Regions from separate parts of the Homo sapiens genome. Here region 2 is linked to region 1. Evidence: fine-mapped expression QTL. A gene starts in region 1. The other region holds a variant in brackets. All regions are shown on one strand. Distances are from middle to middle. Region 1 holds the start of MTX3 (metaxin 3). Region 2 overlaps THBS4 (thrombospondin 4).

What was found.
Region 2: its variant is fine-mapped to the expression of MTX3 in whole blood (INTERVAL, PIP 0.96).

What each region holds. Positions count from the first base shown.
Region 1 is chr5:79,989,856-79,992,769 of GRCh38, forward strand. It overlaps MTX3 (metaxin 3), which reads right to left and starts at 1,407. Exons shown (of 9, transcript NM_001363818.2): 1 at 1,303-1,407; 2 at 739-808; 3 at 305-381. The coding sequence starts at 1,383. It also overlaps a transcript of THBS4 not described here. RefSeq lists an enhancer at 905-1,074.
Region 2 is chr5:80,070,692-80,073,605 of GRCh38, forward strand. THBS4 (thrombospondin 4) reads left to right here. Exons shown (of 22, transcript NM_003248.6): 12 at 1-59; 13 at 330-489; 14 at 1,587-1,705; 15 at 2,584-2,636. THBS4-AS1 (THBS4 antisense RNA 1) reads right to left here. Exons shown (of 8, transcript NR_109930.1): 4 at 1,817-1,974; 5 at 1,395-1,532; 6 at 1,041-1,200. Among named protein-coding and RNA genes, the nearest start is that of THBS4-AS1, 12 kb to the right of the region's middle. RefSeq lists an enhancer at 1-697. The variant TAGA/T (reference allele first, on the strand shown) is at 1,534.

The DNA of each region.
Region 1 (2,914 bases):
ACAAAATACACAATCCTATCAATAAGTTTAATAGTGAAAATGGCTAATTAAATCTACTTACATACAAATTTCAATAAAATTCAAGCAAAGTTTATTAAAATATAAACTGACTACCTCTTCATATGACTTTCAAATCACAGAACTCATGCTTTAGAGCAGTGATTCTCAAATCTATTTTTACATCTTGTCCCAGGTATCTCCAATTGTCTAATGAGTTGGCAAAAAAAAATAAATAAATAAAATAAAGCCCAACATGCAGGGATCAACAATCTACCAATCTACTTCTTCAAAGTGAACCACCCACCTGTTTTCTTAAAAAGTTTAGTATTTTTGCTGGCTGAGAAACCATGTCGTCTTCAGTTGTCAAAATTGGTACATCGCCTATAATCAAAAAACAGTTTACATACAAGGACACAGTGTGATTTCCTCTGAGAGATTCCAATATCCTAAAAACTATAGCAGTTGCACATTTAGAGGGGAAAAAATGAGTAAGCTTGTCTTGGTTTTTTTGCTGTTTCACAAAGAGCGGTTCTAAAGAACATTTTCGTTTCTCATAATTTCCAGTGATTTCGCTTGCACTTTGAGGTATTACTCAGAATGATCAAACCATAAACAACACAGAGCCAAGGTCACGGTAAGAAACTAAATCCTCAATATTATAGCTATATACCTCACAGCTTTAAATGGAAGAAGAAAAAAAAGAGTGCAGAAAGGGGAGTGTAAAGGTTTACACTATACCTCTTGAACCTCTCCAGGTGTTATCTATCACATTGACTTTCAAGGGTGCACCAGAAAATTTGGCATAAGCCTGAAACAGAGTTTGCAATCAAACATTTTAGACCAAGTGCGTAATGCAAAGCTGCAGAGCAGCTTTACTTCACAGCCCCATCCCCCAAAGGCAGAAGGCGACTGATACTGAGGCCGCATCCCTCCCCGTGATCTCAAGTAGGGACGCGGGCGCCAGCCACCCGGCTTTCGAGGACTTTGCTCCCCAAAAGGTCCTGGGGATGCAGAGTAGGGAGGGCGCGCCCCTTGCTTCGGGGTTTCACTCCACCGCCCAGACAGCTTTGTGAGGCGGACAAAACTCGGAGCCAAGCGGAGAAGCCTTGATGTCGCCGCCGGCCTTCGGCGGGGGTATCGGCCAGGTTGGGACTCGTCGGTGGGAGGGAGCCCAGGGCAATGCAGCGTGCAGCGGCTCGGCCCTCCTGGACCCCGCAGCGCAGCGGGAAACTGGGGCAAGTCAGCCTGGCGCCTCCAGCCCCGCCCCTTCCTCCTGCGCCCTGGCCCGCGAGGCGGCCTCACCATCACCACCAGGGACTCGCTGTGAACCGATGGGAGTCCCCAGCCGCCTCCCCAGCAACTGAGTTCCAAGGGGGCCGCCATCTTGCGCGGGCCGACCTTTACTATCCCGGAAGTACTTTTCCTCCTAATTTCCGGCACGTGAAACGCGGGGGCGTGGCTAAGGGAGGGAAGGGTAATTTGGGGGCTCTTGAGAGATGAGAGAAACAACGACTGGAGGGATTAAGAAGAACTCTTAGGAGCAGCTTGGCCTAAAGGGTAAGAGTTGTGTGCCTTAAGTCAGACCCACCAGTAATTCTTCAAATATTAATATTTATTAGATCCCTAGAGTGTTCCAAACCCTTTGAACATTAAATCTGTGTGATGCCTAAATTAACCTGTTTGTAAAACAGGGATGACCCAGTATTTACAAGATTGTGGTATTTACAATGTCGGAGAGAAAGAACTTGGCACACAGGAGGCACTCAGTAATTGTTCAACCCCTTCTCCCATGTATGTGGCCTCTGCCTGCCTTTCCAGCCTCAACCTGTTCTCACCCTCATGTTCACTGGCACAACCCTGCTTAAAAGTTACAGTATTTCTGAACGTCAGGTAAATTGTGCCCACCTTCAGTGCTGGTCCTTCAATCTGGAATATCTTTCTTCCCTATGCAGCTGCTCCCTCAAAAATGAGCTTAACTCACCTTCCCTGTGATGTTTTTACAAAGTTAGGAGCTCTGGGTTCTTGTAGCCCCTTGTGCATATTTGAATTGTAGCTTCTCTCCCTAGCTACAGACCTTTTGCCTTTCACAGAAGAGGGCTAGCTTCATAGGTTTGGGACCTGTGCAGCCACACAAGGCTCTGTGCTTAAAAAGGCTCCTCATTTGGCTGATGCTCTTCCGTCACTGTCTTGAAATTCTTAAGTTTTGAACAAGGGGCTCTGCATTTTTATTTTGGACTGGGCCCCTCAAATCATGTAGCTCGTCATGTCTGTGGGCCTAATGAGCACAGACTAAATGTTTCTTGACGTTAAACCTGACAGTTTCTCAGAAAAACTATTAAAGAGGAAATTTTGGTCTTGGAAATGCTATGATCCAAACATATGACTGGGTCTCAGAGTTAGAACTTGGGTGCTGGGTCTTTTTTCTAGAAGGCACAGTAGTCTTTCTGGGACACCCTCGCAGTCATGCCTCTGAGTTCTTTCCTCTATTCCACTGAGATGGTCGGATCTTCTTAACTAAAACTCAAAAGAAACCTCTGCAACTTTTCGTAAAATTACTATTCAACAAATATTTGCTAGGCACTCCCTTACTGTTTACATAATCATTCAAATTACAGTGCCAGCCTGCTAAAGTCTTTTTTACATGTTTCAAAACCAAGAGTTCTAAGAAATGAAAAAGAGATATGTCAGAAATGAGAATTCATTAATAATAACTGTATAATTGGAAAATGCATAACATATGTACCATTAAAACTGTCGAAACATTTATTGAGCAGCTCCTATGTCTTAGACATCATAAGGTTCTGGAACAATACAGAAATATATAAAACATGAATTCTGTCCTCGGGAGTTTACAGTGCACAAAGGAGATATACACACACCAAGGTGTAACAAGTCAGATAATCACGAGTAGGGT
Region 2 (2,914 bases), 81 kb after region 1:
ATGGCATTGGCGACGCTTGTGACGAGGATGCTGACGGAGATGGGATCCTGAATGAGCAGGTACCTGCTTCGCTGGGAGGGCCTGTGAATTGCCACGTACCAGGGATGATGGGAGAAAGCCTGTGATGTCAACTATGTATATGAATCATCCCAAATGTTAGTTTCCATGCCTGCATTCCACAGCACTGCAGCTTTTTACCCTATAAGATTCACAGATGTTTGAAATATAAAACTGACAAACTTGGGCCACCAGAGTGCTGATGCTTCACAACAATGGAGGAAGTGGATTTAGTAAAAGTCTGAGTGATGTTCTGTCCTTTCATCTTTTAGGATAACTGTGTCCTGATTCATAATGTGGACCAAAGGAACAGCGATAAAGATATCTTTGGGGATGCCTGTGATAACTGCCTGAGTGTCTTAAATAACGACCAGAAAGACACCGATGGGGATGGAAGAGGAGATGCCTGTGATGATGACATGGATGGAGATGGTAGATTTATCTTGCTTTTGTCTTTTATTTGGAATTCAGTTGACCTTGTTCCATTGTTCTCTGAGAGAGTAGGAATAGAATGACTGATTCGGAGCCTTCCAGCTGTGGGTGGCTCATTGTGGCCTGCATCTGGAAGACCCAAGGTGGACTTGTGTCTATGGAAGGAGACCCCACAGCCCACTCCACTACCTAATGGCTCTGGATGTTTCCAGGACTCTGTATCATTGCCAGAAACTTTGTATGACCCCTTCAAGCAGTGTCTTGTCAGAGTGTGTCTTTATGGGGTATCTCCCTTCCCATTTCTACCTGTCCTCACTCTCCACTATCCTTTCTACATGTGAGAGACCCAGAAGTGGAGAACTGAATGAGAAGGCATTGAGCAGGGTCACAGACTATGCATCACAGGCTACACATCCCATTGTGGGCCCTTGAAGGAAAAACCTTTTTGAAATACCACCTGCCCCAACACACACATACACACACACACACACACACACACACACACATACACCACTCCAGAACATGCACACCCCCCTAAAACATGACCTCACCTTCTGCAAGCCTAACTGATGACCCATTTCCAGTGGTATATGCTGGTAAGCAAATCACAGAAAGCCCTAGTTGGTAGCATTTTCCAGTTTCCATGATGTAACTCCGCATTGTCCTCATTGCTGATTTCAAGCTACCAATGTGACATCATCAAACACAAAACTGAAAAGAGAGGGACACAATGGACCCAGCTCCAGCACAACACTGCCTAGAGCCCTAGGGTCTCAGTCATAGCTCAGATACCCACGAGATCCTCCCTCTCCAGGGTCAGCCATACAGCCATCATGATCCCCTCCTCGTGGTTGCTATCATAGCCCTTGACATCTTGGACAAATTAGAATTCAGTCGATAAATACCTCTGAGAGCTGTTCATTTTTAAGTCTCCCAGAATCCGTCCTTTGAAGCTACCTCTGGATAACTGCAGAAAAGGGTAGTCTCTGTGTGACACTGGCCCAGGCAGAAGTGACTCACCATGCGCCTGATCTCTCCAGCACC[TAGA/T]AGAAGTCAGTGACATTCCCCTGACTCAAGGTAGCATTTCTTTCTCACAGGAATAAAAAACATTCTGGACAACTGCCCAAAATTTCCCAATCGTGACCAACGGGACAAGGATGGTGATGGTGTGGGGGATGCCTGTGACAGTTGTCCTGATGTCAGCAACCCTAACCAGGTTAGTAGGATACTGGGGAATTCAAACTCCAGGCTGAATTCCTCTATGCAAAGACTCATTTAAGACGGGTGTCTAGAAAAACAGCAGAGCCTCTTAGCTGTTGCCACTTACCTAACAAAGCAGAGGTGGAAAAATGACACACTGTGGGCCTGAAGATGGTGGGATGAACACCACACAAGATCTGAAGCCCTAGGGACTATCTCCCAGGCTGTCGATTGCCTGTGAGGTTAGTAACACGAACTTCATGATGCTCAATACAAGTATTTTTCCTGCAGAAAGGAAAACGGAGCATGGAAATTAACCATTGGGAGCCTTGTGTCCCTTTAGTCCCTAAACCCCTACACAGCCTATGTATGGACATTTCAGATTAAGTTCAGCCAGGGATGTGTTGCATCTCCCTTCTCACTCCTCCTCCCTGTCTGGATAATTGGGTATGATGTGTCATTTATTTTTAAAGCCCTGAGAGAGGGGAGTCATGGTTGCCCTCTGTGACTCACTCATGATTTTGGCCAAATTGCAAATTGCAGAAGCAAAGCAAAATCAACCTGCCTTCTCCCCATGCCTATGGCTGGCTCCCTGTGACCCGTGCCAGAGTTCCATGCCTCCACCTGCCACCATGCTACCCCAGCGCCCCTTTCCAATCAGCTCATCTGGTGTGTGGGCAGCCCATCCATGTAGCTTGATATTTTAGAAGGCTTTTTTGAAAATTCAGCATTGTGCCTACACCAATATGGTGTTGTCCTTTTGCAGTTTTGCACCACCCCGGTTCCAGAGAAATAATTCCCCAAATCCAATGATGATGGGTGAGGTCTGCCTTCTCTGGAACATTCGGTACATGCAGGCCCAGGAATAAATAACATGTGCTGTTCTCTTTGCAGTCTGATGTGGATAATGATCTGGTTGGGGACTCCTGTGACACCAATCAGGACAGGTATGGCATGTCTCCCAACTGCAGAGAGACAGATGCAAACATCCGGAGAGGGTTTTTGGTTTGTTTTTTTTTTTGAGGCGGAGTCTCACTCTATCACCCAGGCTGGAGTACAGTGGTGCAATCTCGGCTCACTGCAAGCTCCGATTCCCAGGTTTATGCCATTCTTCTGCCTCAGCCTCCCAAGTAGCTGGGACTACAGGCGCCCGCTACCATGCCTGGCTAATTTTTTTGTATTTTCAGTAGAGACGGGGTTTCACCATGTTAGCCAGGATGGTCTC